7 linked regions of the Homo sapiens genome follow. The protein of the gene in region 4 purifies or fractionates together with the protein of the main gene of each other region. This does not show direct contact. Each region holds a gene or a part of one and is shown on either strand. Other genes may lie near its edges.

Evidence for each region.
Region 1: the proteins of CDKN3 (region 4) and PFKP purify together in Homo sapiens (affinity purification with mass spectrometry, with the first as the bait; one large-scale study listed by BioGRID). This does not show direct contact.
Region 2: the proteins of CDKN3 (region 4) and DIS3L purify together in Homo sapiens (affinity purification with mass spectrometry, with the first as the bait; one large-scale study listed by BioGRID). This does not show direct contact.
Region 3: the proteins of CDKN3 (region 4) and CDC42BPB purify together in Homo sapiens (affinity purification with western blotting, with the first as the bait; one study listed by BioGRID). This does not show direct contact.
Region 5: the proteins of CDKN3 (region 4) and HRNR purify together in Homo sapiens (affinity purification with mass spectrometry; one large-scale study listed by BioGRID and IntAct). This does not show direct contact.
Region 6: the proteins of CDKN3 (region 4) and HLCS purify together in Homo sapiens (affinity purification with mass spectrometry; one large-scale study listed by BioGRID and IntAct). This does not show direct contact.
Region 7: the proteins of CDKN3 (region 4) and CD47 purify together in Homo sapiens (affinity purification with mass spectrometry; one large-scale study listed by BioGRID and IntAct). This does not show direct contact.

Annotation. Positions count from the first base shown.
Region 1 is NC_000010.11:3,066,372-3,070,347, reverse strand, and holds the start of PFKP (ATP-dependent 6-phosphofructokinase, platelet type), read right to left. Parts: upstream 2,801-3,976; 5' UTR 2,753-2,800; coding exon 2,641-2,752; intron 2,379-2,640; exon of another isoform or gene 2,359-2,378; coding exon of another isoform or gene 2,328-2,358; intron 1,722-2,327; exon of another isoform or gene 1,427-1,721; intron 1,160-1,426; exon of another isoform or gene 967-1,159; coding exon of another isoform or gene 959-966; intron 1-958. Other genes in the region: wiskott-Aldrich syndrome protein family member 1-like, read right to left, coding at 3,208-3,645. UniProt on the Homo sapiens protein: Catalyzes the phosphorylation of D-fructose 6-phosphate to fructose 1,6-bisphosphate by ATP, the first committing step of glycolysis.
Region 2 is NC_000015.10:66,328,068-66,331,567, forward strand, and holds part of DIS3L (DIS3-like exonuclease 1), read left to right. Parts: intron 1-902; coding exon 903-1,057; intron 1,058-1,153; coding exon 1,154-1,332; intron 1,333-1,545; coding exon of another isoform or gene 1,546-1,557; exon of another isoform or gene 1,558-3,500. UniProt on the Homo sapiens protein: Catalytic component of the RNA exosome complex which has 3'->5' exoribonuclease activity and participates in a multitude of cellular RNA processing and degradation events.
Region 3 is NC_000014.9:102,967,050-102,970,549, reverse strand, and holds part of CDC42BPB (serine/threonine-protein kinase MRCK beta), read left to right. Parts: intron 1-288; coding exon 289-399; intron 400-1,833; coding exon 1,834-2,078; intron 2,079-2,191; coding exon 2,192-2,297; intron 2,298-3,379; coding exon 3,380-3,500. UniProt on the Homo sapiens protein: Serine/threonine-protein kinase which is an important downstream effector of CDC42 and plays a role in the regulation of cytoskeleton reorganization and cell migration. Regulates actin cytoskeletal reorganization via phosphorylation of PPP1R12C and MYL9/MLC2.
Region 4 is NC_000014.9:54,410,507-54,414,006, forward strand, and holds part of CDKN3 (cyclin-dependent kinase inhibitor 3), read left to right. Parts: intron 1-977; coding exon 978-1,200; intron 1,201-3,500. UniProt on the Homo sapiens protein: May play a role in cell cycle regulation. Dual specificity CC phosphatase active toward substrates containing either phosphotyrosine or phosphoserine residues. Dephosphorylates CDK2 at 'Thr-160' in a cyclin-dependent manner.
Region 5 is NC_000001.11:152,211,576-152,214,193, reverse strand, and holds the end of HRNR (hornerin), read left to right. Parts: coding exon 1-1,118; 3' UTR 1,119-2,118; downstream 2,119-2,618. UniProt on the Homo sapiens protein: Component of the epidermal cornified cell envelopes.
Region 6 is NC_000021.9:36,963,870-36,968,121, forward strand, and holds the start of HLCS (biotin--protein ligase), read right to left. Parts: upstream 2,801-4,252; 5' UTR 2,770-2,800; coding exon 2,575-2,769; intron 2,524-2,574; exon of another isoform or gene 1-2,523. UniProt on the Homo sapiens protein: Biotin--protein ligase catalyzing the biotinylation of the 4 biotin-dependent carboxylases acetyl-CoA-carboxylase, pyruvate carboxylase, propionyl-CoA carboxylase, and methylcrotonyl-CoA carboxylase.
Region 7 is NC_000003.12:108,077,532-108,081,031, forward strand, and holds part of CD47 (leukocyte surface antigen CD47 isoform 1 precursor), read right to left. Parts: intron 2,814-3,500; coding exon 2,460-2,813; intron 1-2,459. UniProt on the Homo sapiens protein: Adhesive protein that mediates cell-to-cell interactions. Acts as a receptor for thrombospondin THBS1 and as modulator of integrin signaling through the activation of heterotrimeric G proteins.

The sequences.
Region 1 (3,976 bases), on a different chromosome or scaffold from region 4:
ACTGAGATATTCTCGAGGAATAACCTACTTACTGTAAGGGTTTGTAAATCTGTGGCAGCTAAGACCAGGCCCTCTGAGTACATCTGGAGGTGAACTTCCTTAAAAGAAATGCGTCCAAATGCTCCAACAGGTTCAAGATCGTATCACCGAAGGGTAAAGCTCTTTACAGAGTCTACAAAAAAATTGTGACTTCAGCTCTGCCAGGGAAAGAGTGCCCAGGCGACCCGCCATGGCGGGCTTCCCCAGGGACAGCCCAGGTGTGACCCATGTGGGCTCGAGGCCACCATATTTGATGCCACCTGCAGAGCTGAGGGCAGCTGTCTCCTATTAACCCGAGGTTGCAGCAACCAAGCCGCGTTCCCCACATAATATTGGTTTCCAAAGTATCATTTTCCCCAGAAAAGAAGAGGCGTGGACTTACTAACCTTCAATATGTCTAACTCCTCCCAGGTGGCAAAACCAGGGTAACAGAGAACACCGCGATTCTGCCAATGTATCCTAATCTCACATGCCTGTACACAAACTCCCGCGCATTTTAGCAAGCTTTTGGACATGGAGCTCAAAGGAATGACCCATAAATATTTTCCAATACATGCAGTATCTTAATTTTTTTTCTTTCTTTTTTTTTGTAGACACAGAGTCTCACTATGTTGCCCAGGATGCTCTGGAACTCCTCGGCTCAAGCGAGCCTCCTGCCTCGGCCTCCCAAAGCACTGGGATGACAAGCATGAGCCACCGTACAAGGCCCACAGCACCTAAATTCCAAAATAACCTTGAAACCCTGACTTTCCACCCGCCCTGGTGGCTTCCAGAGATCAGTTCCTCTTCCTGTGCCAAAGGTTTCTTGTCTTTCGCGGCCCAGGTAAGGTCACTCAAGGTGCTCCCTCTGCTTCTGAAGGCCTTTGACTGAGAAGCCACTCTGGGTCCTATCCCGACCCCAAGGCGGCTCCATTCGTACCCGCACATCTCCGGGCCGGTTTAAGTCACGCGGGCCAGGCTATTTCCACTTCACTCTCCTGTTTCTTCAATCCCATCCTCTGCTGCATCACGTTTTCTTTCTCTGAGAACCCAGCCCTGCAGGAAGAACGTTGATGCTGGGGTCCTTTTACTGGAATGCTAACGCCAGAGCACTTCCCGGGGGCGCTGCAGGGCGGGCTGCGGGGCGGGGCCTGGCGCTGCCACCCGGGTCTCCCGCGGGGGGCGCTGGGCCTGGGGAGGCTGCGCTGCGGGCCTGGGGAGCGCGCGGCGCACGGGTGTCGGGGCCGGGGCTCGTGGAGACGACGGGCCGGGCATCACGTAGGCGCTCGTGGCGGGCGGGGCGGCGCCCACAGCGCCTCAACCTGCGGCACCCGCGCCCGCCCCGCGCGCTCAAGGGCGAAGGGAAGGTCACCCGCGCAGTGGGCAGGGGGTGCATCCCCGCTCCAACCCTGTGCAGTGCGCGGCCCCGAAACGGGAGGAAATCCGCCATCCGGGCCTTTCCACGCATCTGCGGCAGGAGGAACCGGGAAAACAAAAATCAAAACCCAGCTCGGGGCGCGCCGCGTCTCCAGCCTGCGCGATCGCTAAGGCTCCCAGGTTGCGTTCGCCTGGGAAGCGCCGATCTACCCGCCAGGGATTGCACGGATCGGGACACTCCATCATCCGGGCACCGGCGCCCCCACGTGCACCCGGGGCCTGGGGCGCGCCGAGTCTCCGCCACCTTCCGCTCTTCAATGTTAAATATCCTCCCGGCGCGCCCGCGTCCGTGGGCCCAGCCTCGGGCCCCTCCTAGAGAGCAGCTTCCACATTGCAGGGCAGGGAAGCCCGGAGCCCGCGCCGCGGCGCCGCTGACATCCCGGAGTCCCCGCTTCCTGATCCTTCCCGTCTGCGGAGGCTGGCGGGGAGGGCCTGGGACCCATTTTGGTTTTCGTTTTTGTCACGAGCCGGAAGGCGACAGCACATGCGAGCGCAGGAAACCCTTTTTAAAAATCTCCCAGCGGAAACGCGAGGGGCTGCCGGACCGCCCTGGAGACGCCAGGCGGGAACCCCGCGCACCCCCGCCGCGTCCCGCATTGCAGCAGCCAGGACCCCGCCCACGCCGCGCAGGGCACGAGGCGACAGGAGGCGCGCGGGGACCCAGCCGTTTCTTCCTCGACATTCTAGGGGGTGGCGTGCGGCGGAGTTGGGGGGCGGGGGGGCACTTAGGAAGTGATCGCGCTGTACCCACGCTTCGGAGGGGACGCCCGGCCCCGTCCTACAGCTCAGAGGCAGAACGACCCCCGAGGGCGCTTCAGGCGACTCCCTCTGCCAGGTTCCATTTAAAACAAAACCGAAGGTGGAAAACTCACTGATCTTCCGGATGGAGGTTCCTACCGCCATGTCCCTTCCTCCCCCGCCCCACCGGGCAAGGACCCCGGGGCTGCCTCGCCGGCTCATGCCGCCCCGCAGGTACCCCTGCCGCTTCCGGGCGCGGGCTTCTTCCCGGTTCTCCCCATCGCTTCCCCGCTCTTCTCCCCGGTTCTCCCCATCGCTTCGCCACCTTTCCCCGGGTCCCCCCCATCGCTTCCCCCCTCTTCTCTCCGGTCACCCCATCGCCTTCGCCCGGTTCTCCCCAGCTCCGTCCGTCCGTCCCTCCCTCGCCGCCGGGAGGGGGGCGCGCACCTTGAGCATCCCCGCCGCTGGTCAGCACGCCGATGGCCTTGCCGGCCCCGGAGAGGTGCTCCAGGAACTTCCGCAAGGAGCCCTTGGGGGCCCGGGAGTCGTCCGCGTCCATGGCGAGGAGGCCGAGGGGAGCCGCACGTCCGGGTGCGCAGCAGGCAATGGGGACCCTGCCCGCGCGCGCCTGACTCGGAACCGCCGCCCCGCCCGCGCCCCCGCCCGGCCCCAGCGCCAATGGGCGGTGACGGGCGGGGCCCGAGCGTATGGGAGGGGCTGCGGGGGAGGGGGCGCGGGCGCGGCTAGGGGCAGGGGCCGGGGCTGGGGCGGGTGTGGGCAGGAGCATCTACGCGGGGGTCGTCGTAGGTGGGGGCCGCGCTAGCGGTGCGGGAGGCGGCAGAGGCAGGGGTAGCGCCACAGGTGGGCGGGTCCCTGCTAGTGGGGCCGCATCGCAGGTGCGCGAGCCTCGCGGGTGGGCTGGAGGACTCTGGTTGGGGGCTCTAGAGATGACGGGAGCGCCACAGGTGGGGCAGGGGCAGCGTCCGGAGGAGGGGAGACCGCAGGGGGCCGGGGTCACATCGTTTGCGGGGCGCGCCAGGGCGGGGCGGGATAGAACGCCGGGAGCATCTCCCGGGGGGGCGAGGGAGACCGTGAGTGGGCGCGAGCGCCGGGGCGGGTGGAAACCCCGCAGTTGCGGGGAGCGCCGATGGCGGGGAGGGGTGGAATGGGGGCGCGGAGACCCCACCTGGACGCGGAGGCTCGCGGCAGGCCCGGCCGCTCGGGCCGTTGTGGGGGCCGAGCCCGGCCGCGCGCACAGCTTCTAGTGGCCCGCAAGATTCCTCCTGGGGCGGCGCTGGGAGCCTCGGGGCTCGGCTTCCTCGACCCCCGCCCCCAGGTTTCCTCTGCAGCCTGAGGTCGGGAAGGACGGACGGAGAGTGGATCCTCCAGGTGGTGGGAAAAGGTGAGCGTGGCGGGCTGGGCCATGACGAAGCTGCCATTTCCCGGGCCCATGGGGGCTGTGGTGCTCCTGGGCCCCCAGCCCCGCCCTTGGGGGGAAGAAGCCGTGGGGTGGAGGAAGGTATCGGGGCGCGACCCTCAGAGACGCCCTGGCGGCGCCCCGGCCTGGGCGCTGGAAAGTCAGAGTGGGGCAGGAGGAGGCGCAACAGGACTGGCCTGGCGGGGAGGCGGGGAGGCGGGAGGACCCTCCCTCCCCACGGACACGCGCGCTGCTGTACGCTCTGCCTGACCTCGGCCGGCTCCACTGGCCAGCTCCACGTACTGAAATACTCACATCCAATGCACTGTGCGGTTGCCCATCCACAGCTTAACAGCCTGGTGCCAG
Region 2 (3,500 bases), on a different chromosome or scaffold from region 4:
GGGACAAGGGCTTTCAGACATCCTCTTGGTTAATTCTTAATGCTGAGGTGATGGCAGCATCATTCATATTTACAGATAAGTCAATTAAGTCTGAAGAGATTAAGTAATTTGCCTGTAATTTAACAGTCAGGGCAGAGCCAAGATTTGAATCCAAGTCTGTTAAACTTGCAAGCTCACATAGTGACCACTTAACACCTTGCCTCTCTGTTCATCATCATGCTCTATTTCTCCTTTCCCCCTTTTCCCTTAGCCAGCCACAATATAGGACTGAATTATATGTTATTAGTTTTATTTTTAATATACCTCTATATTTCCTGGGGCTTTGAAATTATTATTTTGAGGCTGTATGCAGTGGCTCACACCTGTAACCCCAGCACTTTGGGAGGCCGAGGCAGGAGGATCACTGAAGGCCAGGAGTTCAAGACTAGCCTGGGCAACAAAGTGAGACCCTGTCTCTACAAAAAAATTATTTTGAGAATAAATAAATAGAATGCTTACTACCTCTTTAAAAAAGAAAAACTAATTTAGGTTTCTTTTACTTGTACACCAAGTCCATTATTTTACCTATATATAGAATGTTTAAGGTTAAGGATGTAAAGAATTCAATTCAACGAGTATTTGACCACCTATTATAGCCAAGCACTAACTTAACCTAGTATTAAAATCAGTACATGATTCATTTCTACTTAAGAAATGTATTTAAATTCTGACACTCTTGTTTTGTTTAAGCCGTAAAGCAAACTAGATTTCTGTAGTTGAAAAGAGGTGCTTCTGAAACGTGTCCAAAACAAATTTACTGGCAGATGAAGGTATTCAGACGGATGAGTGAAGGGTTCCCCTCAAAGTGTTGTCTTGTAAATTACTGTCTGGGACTAGCTAACGGTTTTTCTGTTCTTTGTCAGGTCCAATAAAACACTGGCTGATTCTCTGGATAATGCGAACGACCCCCACGATCCCATTGTGAACAGGCTACTGCGCTCCATGGCCACGCAGGCCATGTCGAATGCTCTGTACTTCTCCACCGGATCCTGTGCGGAGGAGGAGTTCCATCATTACGGTGAATCATACCATATTCCTATGTGTGGCTGTAACTTTGCGCTAGTTATTTTAAAATAGTTTTTGTTTATTTTGATCTTTTGCTTTCTTTTTGAAGGTCTTGCATTAGATAAATATACCCACTTTACTTCTCCAATAAGAAGATATTCAGATATTGTAGTACACCGCTTGTTAATGGCAGCCATTTCAAAAGATAAGAAAATGGAAATTAAGGGAAATCTGTTCAGCAACAAAGATCTTGAGGAATTATGCAGACATATCAACAACAGAAACCAAGTAAGAGGGAATTTCAAAATTCTCTTACCTGTCATCTCTTGCTAAGAAAATATCAGCTTTATTGTGTAGTACCGTGAAGTATCATATATTCTAGCAAATTAAATTCTAGAATTATTCTAACCAGTGCTTTCAGAACATTTGTAGATGTTCTCAGGTAACTTGTGGATTTGGGAGATTTGACGGTAGATTATCAGATTTTTTTTTTTCCGAAAGGTGGAAATGTAAAGATTCAAGCAACGCATAAAGATATGATGACAGAGGCCAGACGTGGTGGCTCACTTGAGGGCGGATCACTTGAGGTCAGGAATTTGAGACCAGCCTGGCCAATATGGTGAAACCCCATCTCTACAAAAAATACAAAAATTAGCCGGGTGTGATGGCACGCGCCTGTAGTCCCAGTTACTTGGGAGGCTGAGGCAGGAGAATCTCTTGAACCCAGGAGGTGGAGATTGCAGTGGGCCGAGATCACACCACTGCACTCTAGCCTGGGTGACAAAATTGAGACTGTGTCTCAAAAAAAAAAAAAGATATGAAGACAGAAACATCACCTGTTATCTTACCACCCAGAGCTAACAATTAATGATTCTAGACACTGCTAACATTTTTATTTATAAAAATATCGGCCAGATGCGGTGGCTTGCACCTGTATTCCCAGTACTTTGGGAGGCTGAGGCAGGTGGATCACGAGGTCAGGAGATCGAGACCATCCGGGCTAACACAGTGAAACCCCATCTCTACTAAAAATACAAAAAATTAGCATGGTGGCAGGCGCCTGTAGTCCCAGCTACTCAGGAGGCTGAGGCAGGAGAATGGTGTGAACCCGGGAGGCGGAGCTTGCAGTGAGCTGAGATTGCACCACTGCACTCTGGCCTGGGTGACAGAGCGAAACTCCGTCTAAAAAAAAAAAATCACACCGTGCCTGCTGTTTGAATCTGCTTTTTTCATGTAACCCAACTGTTATTGATAGCACACCATGTTATATCATTGTTTTGAAGCTGCTTTCTATTCTATTTCATATTACTAGTTGCTACAAGATTGCACAGCATAGAACTAGACTATTGGGTAACGCAGGAAATTGGAAACTACCTAAATGTTTAATGTAATTTTCTATATCCAATGGTATAGTTGTCTGCTGTGCAATGTTGTAGCACTAGCCATGTGGACTACCTAAATTTAATTAAAATTAGAAGTAGAAATTTGTCTCAGTAGAAATTTGGCCAGTGTCTCAGTCACACTGGCCACATTGTATAGCTCAGTGGCCACTTGTGGTTAGTGGCTACATATTAGGCAACACAGATAGAGAGCATTTCTATCATTGCAGAAAGTTCTGTTGGGCAGCACTGTTCTAAGCAATCAAATTTATAACCATCCTTATGGATACACTTATACAGACATTTCAGATGATTTCCTGGAAAAATTCCTAGAAATGGAATTGCTGAGCCAAAAGGTGTGCATGCACAAATGAAACTGATAGGTCAGGTGCAGTGGCTCACGACTGTAATCCTAGCACTTTTCGAGGTCGAGGCCGGTGGATCACCTGAGTTCAGGAGTTCCAGAGCAGCCTGGCCAACATGGTGAAACCCCGTTACTACTAAAAATACAAAAATTAGCCAGGCATGGTGGTGCATGCCTGTAATCCCAGCTAATCGGGCGGCTGAGGCAGGAGAATCACTTGAACCCGGGAGGCAGAGGTTGCAGGGAGCCAAGATCGCGCCATTGCACTCCAGCCTAGGCGATAGAGTGAGACTCCATCTCAAAAAGAAGACAAAGAAACTTTAATACATATTACTAAATTGTCTTCCTTATCAGTAGTGCTAATTTAGACTTCCACCAATAGGGTTTTCATTGGACAGGCTTGAAAAGAAAGAAAGGCTGGCCGGGCGCGGTGGCTCATGCCTGTAATCCCAGCACTTTGGGAGGCCGAGGCAGGCGGATCACGAGGTCAGGAGATCAAGACCATCCTGGCTAACACAGTGAAACCCCATTTCTACTAAAAATACAAAAAATTACCCGGGCGTGATGGCAGGCGCCTGTAGTCCCAGCTACTCCAGAGGCTGAGGCAGGAGAATGACGTGAACCCAGGAGGTAGAGCTTGCAGTGAGCCGAGATTGCACCACTGTACTCCAGCCTGGGTGACAGAGTGAGACTCCATATCTCAAAAAAAAAAA
Region 3 (3,500 bases), about 49 Mb from region 4:
CTGGTTTTCACGAATCAGTGAAATTTAAATTTCAAGAAATGTATCCTTTCTTGAAATTTAAGTGTCAATTTAAGCTAGAATTGAACCTTGTTTTATTAGTAACCAACCATCCCAGTTGAACCCAGAAGTGTATTTCTCAAACTTTAATTTGTGATAAGATTTGATGAAGGGTGAACACGCGCAGAGCTCCTTCGAGGTCTTGTTCTTGTGGAGGTCCCGTGGGTGCTGCTGTAACTGGTGAAGCAGGGCTCGCTTTTTGTTAATAGAAACTGGATCTTCCTTTTGTAGCTGGAAGCTCAGCTTGATGATGCTGTTGCTGAGGCCTCCAAGGAGCGCAAGCTTCGTGAGCACAGCGAGAACTTCTGCAAGCAAATGGAAAGCGAGCTGGAGGCCCTCAAGGTAGTGCTGGGCGGGGGTCTCTGCCCTTAACTGAGAGGGATGCTTATCTTTGCTGACGCCACCACATGGAAGTCACCTTGTGTAATGTGTGGTCCGGGCCGAGTGTCACCCGAGGCTGTTCAGACAAGACCCACATGTGGAGAGGTGGGGGGTGTGACCCCTGCCTTCGTGACTGCTTTCATTTTTAAAGGCCAAGTTCATGTTTTTCCTTTGTTATATAAAAGTTTCAGGCAATTCACAGTAAGTCCTAGGAAACGAATATCTAATTGGCTCATTTCCTACTCCAGCCCCATCAATTCATAGCCTTCTTCACATCGTGGTATTCTAAATTCGGTGCAGTTGAGTTTTGGAAAAGCTCCTTAAAGCCCGTAGCCTGCTGCTGACTGGGGAAGAGACAGGCTGGCCATCAGTCGGGGCCCACTGGTGGGGCTGGAGGGTAGCAGGGAGGCCGCGGAGGGCGGGAGTGGGGAAGGCCACAGTGGCCAAGTGGGCAAGGGGCCGGAGGCGGATCTCCTTGGCAGTATGGCGTGGCCTGGATCTCCTCATGTGTGAGCCGCGTGCGATGGGTCTGCCCTCTCCCTTCGCCTCAGTGATCTGGCAACTCTTCCTCTGGGACGTGGGCCTGAGATGCTGTTCCTCCCTGGCAGCGGGCTTGGCTGGACCTCGGCATGTGGTGCCCGAGGCTCCTGCCCCTTTCTCAGCCCTTGAGTCTCCTCTCTGCACAGCAGGCAGAGTGAGCTTGGCAGACCAAAGCCGGATCACATTCCTGTGCGGCAGGGCCTCCGTGGCTCCGCAGCTGTCCAGCAGCTACCCTCCTGCCTGCTCCAGCCCAGCAGTGCCTCTCCTGCCCCTCCTTGCCCCGCCACACCAGACACACTGGCCTCTCTGCATGCTGCAAACACTGCCAACACGTCCCACCTCACTCCAGCCTGTGCCCTTGTTCTTTGCCCCTAGCCTGACACCTCACTTAATAGGCCAGCACCTTACAGAAGCCGCCCCAGCCATCCTGGCACGCCCTCCACTCCCTACAACCTGGCTGGGGTGCACGGCCCCTCTGCCCCTTTACTGGTTTGCTGTCAGTTCCCGCCAGCCCCAAGAGAGCAGAGACCTCAGTGTCACCCCAGTCACAAGGAGGGGGCCCAGCACAGAGTCAGCCCTCAGAAGAATGCTGCAAGCATGAATGAACAGGGTGTGGGGCAGAGCTTCGGGGGTCCCAGGCAGACCTGGGCACATCCCCCTGCAAGGCCGTCTCCTGCTGTGACCCCCTAGAACCTGGATCACGTTAGCCAGGTCAGCTACGTCATCTGGTGTAGACCAGGCACACACAGTCCTTGGGAAGGTGTCTGCACTTGCTTGGGATGAAAGGGGTTGAAAGGACAGTGTGACCCTTGAGGACACAGAGGTTTGTCAATTTATGTTAACCTTTGTCTTCAGGTGAAGCAAGGAGGCCGGGGAGCGGGTGCCACCTTAGAGCACCAGCAAGAGATTTCCAAAATCAAATCCGAGCTGGAGAAGAAAGTCTTATTTTATGAAGAGGAATTGGTCAGACGTGAGGCCTCCCATGTGCTAGAAGTGAAAAATGTGAAGAAGGAGGTGCATGATTCAGAAAGCCACCAGCTGGCCCTGCAGAAAGAAATCTTGATGTTAAAAGATAAGTTAGAAAAGTCAAAGCGAGAACGGTAGGTTTTCATGAGCTTCTCAGTTCAGAAGATGCAAGCTGATACCCACGCCATAGATACGAATATCAGTGAAGTTACGAGCTTTTAAAACTGTTTCTCGCTCACCTTGGCAGGCATAACGAGATGGAGGAGGCAGTAGGTACAATAAAAGATAAATACGAACGAGAAAGAGCGATGCTGTTTGATGAAAACAAGAAGCTAACTGCTGAAAATGAAAAGGTAATTAATTCAAAGTACCTGAGTTAGCACTTTGTGTGGAAGTTGTAATTTAAAAAAAAATTATTTTTAATTTGTGTGGGTACATAGTAGGTATATATATTTATGGGGGAGTAGAATGTCGTCATTCTTGAGTCTTGGAAGTTTGGTTTTTTTTTTTTGAGATGGAGTCTCGCTCTGTCGCTCAGGCTGGAGTGCAGTGACGCGATCTTGGCTCACTGCAACCTCTGCCTCCCAGGTTCATGCCATTCTCCCACCTCAGCCTCCCAAGTGGCTGGGACTACAGGCGTCTGCCACCACGCCTGGCTAAGTTTTTGTATTTTTAGTAGAGACGGGTTTTCACCGTGTTAGCCAGGATGGTCTCAATCTCCTGACCTCATGATCCACCCACCTCAGCCTCCCAAAGTGCTGGGATTACAGGCATGAGCCACTGCGCCGGCCGAAGTTTGGTGTCTTTTTACAGTGCAGTAATGTGCCATATAACGATGCTTCCATCAATGATAGACTGTGTGTACAACAGGCGTCCCGTACGATCATAATACTGTACTTTACTCTACCTCTTCTGTGTTGAGATACACAGATACTTAGCATTGTGCTACAGCCGCCGGCAGCGTCCCGCACAGCAACATGGTATGCAGGCTTGGGGCCTGGAATTGACAGGCTGTACCACAGGGCCTGGTGTGCGGCAGCCGCACCGTCTAGGCTTGCGTGAGTGCATTCACGCTGTGTGTGCAAGGACACGTTTCTCAGACCGTGTTCTTGCTGTTTCACTACACGTGACTGTTTTAATTTTTGAATGGAGTCATGTGTTTGGTCTTTTAAATAGGATGTTTGTATTCAGCGAAAAGATGCCAATTGCCTGAAGTCACTAGCTCCAGCTCCATCAGTTTAGGTTTAGATTTGAATTGAAATGTGACTTAAGCTAGATACAGTGAAAAAAATCCATATCATGAACTTAGTTTGGAAAAATCTCATGACGATTAAAGAAAACTTTCAGAGTCTTCAAAAGAACTTCCAGTGTTAAATCCAGCATACTTAAAGGATGCCCGATTAACAAGTTCTGTGGTGAAATTGTTTCATTTCAGCTCTGTTCCTTTGTGGATAAACTCACAGCTCAAAATAGACAGCTGGAGGATGAGCTGCAGGATCTGGCAGCCAAGAAGGAGTCAGTGGCCCACTGGGAAGCTCAGATTGCGGAAATCATTC
Region 4 (3,500 bases):
TAGTGTATAGAATGCCTATAGTATTCATATCATTATAATGAGAATAGCTAGGTCACAGAAGTTTAATACAGGTAATGTTTTATTTACTGGCGACCTAGTCTATAAAATTAAATACACAAGGATGTGTTACAGTGCAGATATGAGGGAGAATACTAGCACCTCTGACACCATGGCCATGCTGGAGATTTTATATACAATACTCAGAGTCAAGCAAACAGCTAAGTGATGAAGTAGCAGACATGGTTGATTTTGTGAGAAAAAGAAAAAAAGTGCTATCATCCTTAATTGAACATAGATCTATCATACCTTAATTGATAGCACTTTTTTTCTTTTTCTCACAAAATCAACCATATTTGCTACTCAATTTTAAGTGTTTTAAGAGTTATTTTATGCCAGGCATGGTGGCTCATGCCTGTAATCCCAGCACTTTGGGAGGCGGAGGCGGGCAGATCAACTGAGGTCGGGAGTTCAAGACCAGCCTGACAAACATGGTGAAACCCCGTCTCTACTAAAAATACAAAATTAGCTGGGCGTGGTGACACATGCTTGTAATCCCAGCTACTTGAGAGGCTGAGGCAGGAGAATCACTTGAACCTGGGAGGCAGAGGTTGCAGTGAGCTGAGATCGTGCCATTGCACTCCGGCCTGGTGACAGAGCAAGACTCCATCTCAAAAAAAAAAAAAAAAAAAAAGAGGGGGGGTTATTTTAAAGCAGTATTCATTGCAAAAAAAAATTTTTTGCAAGAACAGCAATTGACTTATTTTGAAATTCAGTAAAAGGCATTTTGACTTGTAATATGAGGTTTAATTCTAGACCCCTTTTGATTCAGACATATCAATAGGCACTTCAGATTTATAGATTGTCATTTGGTATTAGTTTGGCTTAAGAAATTTAATTTCATATTCTCCCTCTTGATGGTATTTAAATGTGTGATGTTTTCTATGTGTGTGTGTCTGTGTATCCTGGTCTATTGGCAGAAGAACTAAAGAGCTGTGGTATACAAGACATATTTGTTTTCTGCACCAGAGGGGAACTGTCAAAATATAGAGTCCCAAACCTTCTGGATCTCTACCAGCAATGTGGAATTATCACCCATCATCATCCAATCGCAGATGGAGGGACTCCTGACATAGCCAGCTGCTGTGAAATAATGGAAGAGCTTACAACCTGCCTTAAAAATTACCGAAAAACCTTAATACAGTACGTTCTTTTCTCCATACACTATGTGAGAAATGTCTCAGTCAAAATGATTTCTGGAATTATGGTAGCCCTATTCAGTTATCACCTACTTCATAGTTTGTTGTAAGGATTAAAAGGTAATAATGCACTAGGAAAGCACTGGCACAATGTCTGGTACAGGGTAAGTAGTCAAATACGTGCTGTTATTACTTTTCAAGAGTAGGGACAATAAATGAGTAGATTTGGAAATTGTTAGAACAAGGTTACAAGCTTTTCTTTTTTATTTCTTTCCTTTAGTCTTAGACCTTTAGTTGCAATTTTGGGACCCTCCTTTCCCCTCATCACCATCACTGCCTCACTTATTAGCTTTTCAATTGCTTAGTTGCTTTCAATAGCAAGAAAATCAATTTTTTGGCCAGGTGCAGTGGCTCGCGCCTGTAATCCCAGCATTTTGGGAGACTGTGGTGGGTGGCTCACTTGAGCTCAGGAGTTCAAGACCAGCCTGGGCAACATGGCAAAACCCCATCTCCGCAAAAAGTATACAAAAGAACATGCCAGGCATGGTGGTACGTGCCTGTAGTCCCAGCTACTCAGGAGGATGAGGTGGGGGAACTGCTTGAGCCTGGGAGACAGAGGTTGCAGTGAGCCAAGGTGACAGTACTGCACTCCAGCCTGGGTGACAGGGAGACCCCATCTAGAAAAAAAAAAATAAAGAAAGTCGATTTTTTCAAAATTAGCTACCAAAAAAGTTACCTCTAAGCAATAAGCAATCCTAAAAATATGACTTGAAAATTACATTTGATGATATGACTGCTAACAGATTGAAAGAGGGCCTCTCATTGTGTGTCAGTGGCTATAAAAACACAAGCTGCTGGTGTGAAAGTTTAAAACAAAAGAAGATGGGTTAAGGAAAGGGGACAAAATGAGGAGGAAAGAAAAGCAGCTTGGAGGAAGGCCAGAGAGAGTGGCAATGGGCAGTAGATAGTAGCATGGCAAAGATTCAAAGGGGCGATGTGGATAAAAAACAAGAGATGCTCTGCCGGAAGTGAAACACACAAAGCAACAGAGAGCCAGCCATGGGGAGGAAACTGGACTTTGCCGTGCATAATGTATATTTCATATTCTAATAACCTGCTTAATCCTTTCTCGAATAAGGTAGGGTATTAAATAGTTTACGACCTCAAAAGCCCCAAGTTCCTTAAGGACATTGCTTTGAGCTAGAAGTATAGAAATTATATCAAATAGCCATGGGGTTCTCAGGGCACCTAGTCATAGGACAAGCCCAGCCAACTTCTCCTCTTAAACCTATAGCCCAGGGGCCTCATGCCAACAGTGTCAGTTCTGAAGGCAAACCAACTAGTACGAGGGTCTTTGGGGACACACACCTGTTTGTGGCCAAACTGAACTCTGACATACAGAGAAATATAGTTTGCAGAATATGCAGTAGAGAACTAGAAGCCATTCTACATCCTATTGTTTCCCATCTTCCTCTATGGAAAAAGCATAGTCACTTAACCAGTACTAATTATAAAAGCTAAATTTCAAATAGATCCAGTTGATGATGTGAAAGTTTCTGATACATATAGGTAAAATAGTATTAGATAGTTAAATGTAGCTGGGGAAAAATATTTTCCAACATAGGGCCCTATTTTTCAAACCATTTTGAGATCTTTTTTTTTTTTTTCAAATAAATTTTTGAAAGCAGCCTCTACTGAAAAGTTTCCAGAAATCAAACTAGCTCTGTTTAGTGAAGTGAAGCTTAACAAATTCTACTGTAGCTGGTTCTGGCAACCCAAATGCTCTGATGTTTGTGCAGAGTACAAACAGGATAGACAGTAGATGGGTGACTTTGCATATGCTGAATGTTTCAGTCTCCCATAAAATAAAGCATCTGACAACTGGCATTTTTCATTGTCCTAGAGCTTTCGAAGGTGTCCTACGGTGACTAGTTTATTTTCTATCCATTCTGCCATCTTTGAGGACCCACACTTCTAGACAGCTATAGAGCTTATCCTTCAGCAACAGGATCTGGTAAACCTTTTTCACTGACCTGTTGTCTACCAGTGCTGTCTCACTGGTTCTGCCTGGACATTTGCAGCCCTTTATAAAATTAGTGAACAACACTGCTTGCCTACTGTATTTTGTAGTTTCTTGGGGCTATTGTAACAAAGTACCACAAACCAGGTAGCTGAAAACAACAGAAATTTCTTCTTTCCCATTTCTAGAGGATGTAAGTCCAAAATTAAGATGAGAGCAGAGCCATGCCCTCTGAGACTGAGGAGAGTCCTTCCATGCCTCTTCCTAGCTTCTGGTGGTGGCCA
Region 5 (2,618 bases), on a different chromosome or scaffold from region 4:
GCTCAGGTCATTCCTCTACCCATGGGCAACATGGTTCTACATCAGGACAGTCATCGAGCTGTGGCCAACATGGAGCTAGCTCAGGTCAGTCTTCCAGCCACGGTCAGCATGGCTCTGGCTCAAGTCAGTCTTCTGGCTATGGCCGACAGGGCTCTGGATCTGGCCAGTCTCCAGGCCACGGCCAGCGTGGGTCTGGGTCAAGGCAGTCTCCCAGCTACGGCCGACATGGGTCTGGCTCCGGTCGGTCTTCCAGCAGTGGCCAACATGGGTCTGGCTTAGGCGAGTCTTCTGGCTTTGGTCACCACGAGTCTAGCTCAGGGCAGTCCTCTAGTTACAGTCAGCATGGGTCTGGCTCAGGTCACTCCTCTGGCTACGGACAACACGGCTCTAGATCAGGACAGTCATCTAGGGGTGAACGACACGGATCTAGCTCAGGTTCGTCTTCCCACTATGGTCAGCATGGGTCTGGCTCCCGTCAGTCTTCGGGCCACGGCCGACAAGGGTCTGGATCTGGCCAGTCCCCTAGCCGCGGCCGACATGGGTCCGGTTTGGGGCACTCCTCCAGCCACGGCCAACATGGGTCTGGCTCAGGTCGTTCTTCCAGCCGTGGCCCATATGAGTCTCGCTTGGGTCACTCTTCTGTCTTTGGTCAACATGAGTCTGGCTCAGGACATTCCTCTGCTTACAGTCAGCATGGTAGTGGCTCAGGGCACTTCTGTAGCCAAGGACAGCATGGTTCTACATCAGGACAGTCATCAACCTTTGACCAGGAGGGATCTAGCACAGGCCAGTCTTCCAGCTATGGCCACCGTGGCTCTGGCTCCAGTCAGTCTTCTGGCTATGGCCGACATGGGGCTGGATCTGGCCAGTCTCTTAGCCACGGCCGACACGGGTCTGGTTCAGGGCAGTCTTCCAGCTACGGCCAACATGGGTCTGGCTCAGGACAGTCCTCTGGTTATAGTCAGCATGGAAGTGGCTCAGGGCAAGATGGGTATTCTTATTGCAAAGGAGGAAGTAACCATGATGGGGGAAGTTCTGGCTCATATTTTCTCAGTTTTCCTAGTAGCACTTCACCCTATGAATATGTCCAAGAGCAGAGGTGCTACTTTTATCAGTGAATAATAAACATAAATGCAATTTACTCAAGTAGCAATTTAAGAAATAGGAAAGTCATCTATGAATTCATCATGAAAGACAAGCAATCCATCATGAAATTCGTTCTAAAAGTGAATCAATGCATTTCTGTCTCTTTCTTTAGAGCCTAAAACTGTAGCATATATCTTGTTATGGGGTTCCTTCCAAAGACTGTTAGGCATTTGTGCTACTTTGTTAGAAAATACTGAGTGGAATAACTTGTTAGAATGAGGGTTAAACTTTGAGGAATAATGAAAAGCTTTTAAAGAGCTTTGGGTTTAGTTGGAGTTGTCTTTTTGAGAGCTCATCATTCATTTATAGATGGTGCCAAAGCTAACCTTACATTTCTTAGAAGCAAAATATTACAAATGCATTACCAGTCCTAGATACAAAGCTTTGTTTTACAGCAATTAGTGTACCCTAATTTTTAGTGTGCCCCAAGTTTGGTGTGTCCCAATTTTTGGTATTGTGGCAGAAGGTGAAGGCTCTGAAAGCAAAGATGCAGCAGCGGTAGTGTCTTTACTTATCAAAACCATCAAGTCCTTTTTCTTGGGTATATATTTAATCAGTAAGTTAATTAGTGGCATAAAAAAGTAGCATCAGGGTCTTTTCCCAAGCCAGTGAGCAAGAGCATTATTTCATAAAGAATAGGGATTTATCATTTCAGGAAAAAAAAAAACATTCAAATGTGGGCTTTAGCTTGTTTTCAGCAGAAAGATCTTGCTCCCTATTTCTAAGAGGCTGCTCAATATTGGGAAATATATTGAGGAGTTATTCCATGGAAATACAATGCTTTCCACCTACTACTGTAGTTCAATAACGTTTCCACCTGAAAAAATATCATCCATGCCCAGATGAAAAGGAAGAGTATCTGTCACTGCTACATAGTTCCTTAATTTGACTGTAACACATTTGTTTCAAGTCTTTGGATTCAAACAACCGGATTGTATTAAAATTGACAATAAATAAATGTTGATTAAATACTAAGACTTTTCTCATCTGTGCTTCATTTCACTTCTTACATACAGATGGTCATCCTAGAAACCAAACCAAACAGCGATTTCCCAATATTCTATTTTTCACAATGAAGAATAGATAAAGCATTCTTAAAACTCAATAAGACAAACTACTTCATTTTAAAATGATCAAAATTCCATCACACTGGTATTGGCAATGATTTTTTTGATATGACACCAAAATCACACACAATAATGTGGAGCTGTCAGCTCCATACATTTTATTGTCCCTGAAGCCCTTAGAGGGAGACAACATATGGAGGTAGAAGGCGATATTTGTCTTGGTTTAACAAAAACTTTTTAGTGTTAGTTTTAATTTTTAACAAAAAAAGTTTTTTAAAAAAATTTAAAACAGAAAAAAGCCTACAGAATAATGATGTAAAGAAAAAAATATTTGTGTTCAGCTATACAATGTGTTCGTGCTTTAAGCTAGGTGTTAATTAAGAGAGTCAAAAAGTTTAAAAATGT
Region 6 (4,252 bases), on a different chromosome or scaffold from region 4:
GGCATTCAATTATAAACACACATATTCAGTATTCATGCATTTGATTTTAAGTGTATAACATATGAGAACACGCCAGGCTTGGTGGCTCACACCTGTAATCCCAGCACTTTGGGAGGCCAAGGTGGGCGGATCACCTGAGGTCAGGAGTTTGAGACCAGCCTGGCCAACACTTTGGTGAAACCCTGTCTCTACTAAAAATACAAAAATTAGCCAGGCGTGGTGGCTCATGCCTGTAATCCCAGCTACTCAGGACGCCAAAGGAGGAGAATCACTTGAACCTGGGAGGTGGAGATTGCAGTGAGCGGAGATCGCGCCACTGCACTCCAGCCTGGGTGACAGAATGAGATCCATCTCAACATATGGGCATGAGATTCAGGTGTGTCCTTATTTCAGCCCAAGTAGACTGAGGTATCCCTCAAAAGTAGACCCAAGCAGACTGAGATATCCACCAAATCATCAACCTGATCATATTTTAAATCTCAAAATAACAGTAGCCAACCACAAATAAATGGTCAAGCTTTCCACCTGTAGACCTTCAACATCACAGCTTAAACCCAACAACTATTAAATTTACTATTTCAGGTCAAGCTGCTATGCTAAACAGTCTCATTTCCTAATAAGAAAAAGATACGAACTAGAATAGGAACTGTGATTTAAAGGCTACAGGGATGCAGAGCATGGCCATCCCATCTAGTCTGGAAAACTAGGAAATGACGCAGCAATATCTAACCAAATCTGTAGGCAAAGCTTACTGTGCAGAGTGACAGAGCAGAGTTACAGAATCCATGAAAGCACCAGGCCACTCCTACTCCGGCCTGCACAGGTAGGCAAGGGCTGAAAATCACTAGTTATGGTTAGTGTAGTTAACAGAAGGCCAGCGGAGTCATGAAAATGTTCAAAAGTAAAACTGTCCAAGAAAATCAGACATTCCCATCTCCATGTTTTTATATGTCCAAAATTTCTATTCTGACTTAAATCCTAAATGTAATTGATCCAATTTGGAAACTACTACAAAAAGCTCACCCCTCAATTTTTTGCCATTTTATTGAGTTATCTTTCTCAATCAGGTTAATTCCCAACGCTCTAAGCCATACATTGTATGTAATGCATGAACTTCTTCCCCTTTTGTCTGGGTAGTGTCAGTTATGTGGAGGTGGTACTAGTTATTTGCATAACTAGTACCTTGGGGGACCTGAGAAAACAGTCATTCATATTCAGTGTGACATAATACATATATGGTACTAACAAGAAAGAGTATTTTTTATTTGCTAGTGGCACAATTTCAACCCATATCTAAGCACAGCCTCCAGGCAATGTTCAAACCTGAGATAAGATTCAATTCCCCACAGGGGCTTTACGGTGTGACATATGCAGAAAACGTCATTTTAGTGCTAAAAGTGAGGCAATATTCCAGAAAACAGAGGAAAGGGACAAGAAACAGATTAAAAGCAAAACACGTTTAAATATTAATGAGAACAATGCTACCGATGTCCATGAAATTTTGTGCAGTACTGCACTGTGAAGCTAAGCCCATTTCCAAAAACAGCTGAATGGAAAGATCTATTGTTCCCTTTACAGCAAGGCAGCAGACTTTTTACAGAGATTAATTGACTGGCCCAAGTCACAAGGTAGGTGACAGAGTGGGCTGAACACGTAACCACCATCCTAAGCACTGGGTCAAAAAAAACAAAGGCTGACTGTCAACTGAAATTTAAAAGACGCAAAGACCATCAGTCGGGTGCCCAAGTTGGTGAATGATGCAACCAACTGACAGAAGATGGAGAGGGAAAAGGGCAGTTTTTGTAAATTTGGGGACATCTGACAAAAAGCTGATGACACAGGTGGGAGTTTTTTGTTTGGGATTTTTTTTTTTTTTTCTTAAGACAGGGTCTTGCTTTGTCACCCAGACTGGAGTGCAATGGCTCAATCATAGCTCACTGTAGCTTCAAACTCCGGGGCTCAAGTGAACCTCCCGGGATCAAGTGACCCTCCCGCCTCACCCTCCAGAGTAGCTGGGACTACAGGCGCGTGCCACCACGCCGACCTAAGTGTTTTTTTTGTTTTGTTTTTTGTAGAGAGGGGTCTAGCTATGTTGCCCAGGCTGGTCTCCATCTCCTGGGCTCAAAGCTGTCCTTCCTCCTAGGCCTCCCAGAGTGCAGGGATTACAGGCATAAGCCACCGCTCCCGGCCCGCCACAGCTGTCTCTCCTGGTTCACGGTCACCCAAACGCCGGCTCGAAGTGTGGGAGAGGAGGTTGGGGGCGACCCCAGGTGGGCACTGCTGGCGTCCGGCTGTCAATCCACAGCTCACGTCCTCACAGGTGCGCGCCTAGAGTCACGCGTCCAGCACCGCCCGGCTGGCCGGGAAGAGGCGACCGGGTCCGTGGTCCGAGTCCCGCACCTCCGGCCTCTCTCTGGGCCCCGGGGCAACAGCCCCTCCCGGGCCGCACAGGCCGCACTGAGGGCGCCACTCCGGGGCTCCCGAACTCCCGGGCTCCCGGCGGGGACGAGGCGCAGGGACGGGGGCACTTCCGGCTCGCGGGGCCCGGGTCGCCCGCCCGCCCGACCCGCCCACCTGGCTGTCGCTGACGCAGAAGACGCGGCCGCCACGGCTCAGGCACACGCGGGCGCCCGGGGGCTGCGCGGCCGCGCCGCAGAAGGTGAAGGAACAGCGCGAGGCACGCAGCCGCCGCACCGTGGCGCGCACGAGCTCAGCCGGCCGGCGACCCCAGCGCGCCCACAGGTACAGGTAGCACAGCGTGATGAGCATGGCCGCGCCGCCGGCAGGGCGAGCCCGCCTTGCCCGCCCGCCCCAGCGCCCCAGGCCCGGCCCCGCCCCGGCCGGAAGGGCCGCGCCGCCCCCCCGGGCCAGGCGGCGCGGGGGTGGGGACGGCGGGGGAGGCGGGGACCCGGAAGGTGACGCGGGCAACTGGAGGCTGCGGCGGGAGGGGCGGGGGGGGGTGAGGCCGCGCCCGGCTGTGTGATGGGGAGCTCCGGAGGCCGCGCCCAGGGCTGGTGGCGGCGGCGAGGGGCAGCGCTGGGGCGGGGGGTGTGCACCGGGGTCAGGGGACGCCGGGGCTGCACCCGGAGAGGGGGCTCGAGGGAGTGGAGGCCGGGGTGCGGGGCCGCGCCAGGGCTGAGGAGTGGGATGGGTATGTTGTGGATGCGGGGGAGGGGAGGCTCCAGTGGCTGCCCGACCTGTTTAAGCCAAGTCCGGCCTCCCTTCCTTGGAGGGGTGGGAGGCGGATTGAGGAGGGGGCTCTGCCTATGTTCATAGCTGCCAAGGCCAACCTTTACTAACCAGCAGCACACCGGGAGTCCCAGAGCGCTCCACAGCCGCTACCCAGTCGACTTGGGAAAATAAGATAAGGCCGTTTTTATTAAATTATACTAAGCCTTCATGCAAAAGATTTTAAGGTCAATCACATACATTCACGGGATGCAATAATGTTTTTTTAAATAAGGACAGGAAACAGAAATTGAAGACAGATAAGCACCAAGAAGGCTGCCTCTAAAAAGGCTGTGCCAGGAAGGCTCCCTATGGTGTTCTTGCTACATGTGGGTCAACAGTTTGACTGTAAGCATCCTAACACCAGTGGGAAAAGGAAAACATCACCATGATTTGGTGTTCTTGTCTCCAAGGGAAGCATAATTAGTCCTGACACAGAGGCTTCTCCCATAGAACCTCATTTCTTTAAAAGGCATTATGTAAAGAACGTGTTCTGAACAGCTGCGAAGCACAGCAAAGAATTCCATCCAGTGGCTTCCTATTCTGGCCCTCGCTGAAAATAGGTGGCAAGATGCAGCAAAAGCAATCATGTACACCACGTCCATGTCTTAATCTAAGGATAGTTTTTGTTTGTTTGTTTTTGAGACAGTCTCTCTCTGTCACCCAGGCTGGAGTGCAGTGGTGCAATCTCGGCTCACTGCAAGCTCTGCCTCCTGGGTTCAAGCGATTCTCCTGCCTCAGCCTCCCGAGTAGCTGGGATTACAGGTGCCCGTCACCATGCCTGGCTAACTTTTGTATTTTTAGTAGAGACAGGGTTTCACCACGTTGGCCAGGGTGGTCTCGAACTCCTGACCTCAGGTGATCCACCCGCCTCTGCCTCCCAAAGTGCTGGGATTACAGGCGTGAACCACCGCGCCCAGCTAGGATAGATTTTTTTTAAGAGACAAGGTTTCGTTCTGTCGCCCAGGCTGGAGTGCCGTGGCATAATCACAGCTCTCTGCAGCTTCGAACTCTGAGCTGAAGT
Region 7 (3,500 bases), on a different chromosome or scaffold from region 4:
CCATACTTCTGAGCATTTATCCCAGAGAAATGAAAACTGTGTCTACACAAGAACCTGTACACAATTGTTCAGAGCAGTTTCATTTGTAACAGCCCAAACTTGGAAACAACCAAAATGTCCTACTATAGGTAAGTGGTTAAACAAACTGTGATATATTCATACTATGGACTACTACTCAGCAAAAAAAAAAGTAAGGAAAAAAGAACTATTGATAGATGCAAAAACTTGGATAGATCTCAAGGGCATTGTGCTTAGTGAAAAAGCCCTTCTCAAAAGGTCACATCTTGTATCATTCCATTTATATAGCATTGTTGAAATGACAAAATTATAGATATGGAGGACAAATTGGTGCTTGCCAGGTTAGGGACAGTGGGAGGTGGCGGTATGACTAGTAAGAATAAGCATGAGGGAGATGTTTGTTATGATGGATAGGTCTATGTCCTGATTGTGTAGGTAGTTACGCAAATAAACACGTGATAAAATGAGAGCGAACCATTAACACACACTGCACCATTGTGAACTTCCTGATTTTCATATTGTGTCACATAAGAGGAAACCATTGGGGGGACTGGGTGAAGGGCACATGGAAGCTCTCTATCTTTGAATCGTCCTGTAAATCAATAATTATTTCAAAAAATTAAAATGGATGCAAAGCCAAATGTCTCAAACCTCTGGTAGAATTTTCTACATTCTCTATAATAAAACAATACTTTCTCCTTTTAATGGCTCCCAAAATAAGTCTAGTTTTTATTTTTATAGGGTATTTTGCAAACAAAGATAAAACAGTCTTTCAATCACACGCAAAATAATAAACTGTTTTTATCTCAGATCCTGGCATTCCTTTCTCTTCCATCTTCATTTCATCTTCTGGCCTTTCAAATCTCATATTTTGAGTTTTCCAGTTTACCTCTCAGTGACCTGCATTACCCCCCAAAAGTTACTGTTCCCCCATATCTTATTCTTTCATTTCCACAAAATTGTACATTACCTCAGAAAAATTTCAACTAGGTATTAGATGATCTAATACCAGTTAGTTGCAGTGGATATGACTGACTGATTACACCCTTCATTAAAGGTATACTTAACAACAACAAAAAAAGCTCCTTTGCCCAAATTAATATCAATAGTAAAAGCTACAATGTAAGAGAGATTTCTGAGCAGAAAGACCTTTCAAATTCTCCTTGCCTACTCGGAGCCATCCCTTGCCCATTCCTCACTGCACACAAATCCCTCTCACAATGCTCTAGGCTAACTTCAACAACTTGATACCTTACTTCATAAAATAAACATCCCAGGAAAACAACTAACATTTACAACACACTTTGGTTTATGCTCATTAGACTGTAGAATACATAAAAGCAAGTATCTATTGTCATCTCCATTTCGGACATGAGGTAACTTGGACTCGGTTAAGCACCTTCTCAAGATCACACAGGTGAATAGTAAGTTGCTGAACAGGGGCTGTAACTCAGACCTCCTGATTCTCAATCCTAAGTAATGTGCAAACATTTCATCAAACCAAACACCCCATTCCTAATCTGGTAGTAGATTATTTTATAAAAGCTAGGCAAATAGTTGATCCAACTGAACAGAACTGAACCTATCTAGAGTTAAGGTTCTCAAAATGTGGTTAAGCCATGATCGGTAATATGACAGGTAATTCTAAATAGAGATTTCAAAACAGAAAGAACATACTCATATGGGGTTGAAGAACTCAGCTAGCACAGCAGGAAACAGCAAGGAGAGGAGACTATTTACTTCAGCTAATTTTACTACCTTCTACACCTCAGCAACCCAAGTTTGTGATAAAAAGGGCAGAATCATGGTGCTATCATCAAGTCTGAATTTGAATAAATGAATTTGAATCTCTAGTTCTCTCATATTTTGGCCAACAAAAAGAAGACCAAAGTAAGGCTAAGCACAGAAAATCTGAAGAAATCATCCATGATAACGTGATTTAATCTCCTGACTCTCCTCTATTCTCTCCAGAGGGAGCATGGCTGGGACTTGTCATCCCTTGGTCAAAGTGTAAGGTTAAAAAAAAAAAAAAAAAAAAAAAAAAAACACAAAAAACAGAAGGCTGAATAATTGGAAAGAGACTTGAAAATTAGTCACAGGAAAGAAAGCACTTGGATGGCAGCAAACAGAAATGAAGAGTACATTACCCCAGGACCAATCAGCCAAATAAAATGGTCCTTAGACCAAAAGTTTGAGAACCACACAATATACAAATTAACAAGTAATACAAATTAAATAGTAAATGTGTTTTACCATGAAGAGTAGATTAACAAATAGGATAGAAATCACAATCTTAAACTTGCTAAACATTACATCAACATTTATTAATAACAGCCTGCTTTTTGATTCAAAGGAGTACCTATCCCCATTTGGCCTCCTCTCGAAAGAGGATCAGGTTGCACCAGGACAAATAAAAAAAGAAGCTTTCATAGAAGTCTTACCAACACGATATTTTAGCTCGATGATCGTTTCACCTTCTCTGGTTAATTCTGTTACTTCACAAGTGTAGTTTCCTGTGTGTGAGACAGCATCACTCTTATCCATCTTCAAAGAGGCATCTCCTTTTAGTAATTGTGAGACTTCAATTTTTGCACTACTAAAGTCAGTGGGGACAGTGGACTTGTTTAGAGCTCCATCAAAGGTGTAAATATCTCTTCCTTTAAATTTCCACTTTACGTATACTTCAGTAGTGTTTTGTGCCTCCATATTAGTAACAAAGCATGGAATGACGACAGTGTCATTACAAAACGTGAATTCTACAGATTTTGTTTTATTAAATAGTAGCTGAGCTGATCCTGGAAAGGAAAAAGAAAAATGTTTCATTAATTATAGAAGTCTGTACTGTAAGATCTTAGGCATGTTACAAATCCTTAAGATAAACAGCAACATTTCCATTGTTCACTTAAGTAAACAGTATAGCAATGAAGAAGACCTATTAGGTGAAATATGCAAACAAATTATATTTTAATATTAACTTGCACAGCTGGAAGGCATCATTATGACTTTTCTTTATTCATTCTCAATAATACAAAGTATACATTACATGCATCTTGGGAATAAATTCAGCAACTATGTTGGAACATGCAGGTGTAGTATCTGGCTTTGGAAGCTTTGAAGTAATCATTACTGCCTACTGATATATGTAGAAAAATATTGTCCTTATCAAGGTAAAATTTTGAACAGAAAACCAAACCAAATATTTTATTCAGTCTCAACTTCAACACACTGCTAAATAGAACTTGCTGAACTGATATGAAATTTATCTTTATCCTTATGCTGCATTTCCAAAAAAAGTGGCAGGTTCTACTGTACTTTAATATACAAAGTAAATAGGATGAATCAAATCATATCTTTCCACTAGGATGGAAAATCTTAAAATACTAATGAGGAAAAAAAAAACATTATCTGTGGCTACTTTCCCATAGCAAAATATAGGCAGCAATAGACATTTTGTATGGGAGTCTTGAATGACATTTTCCCAC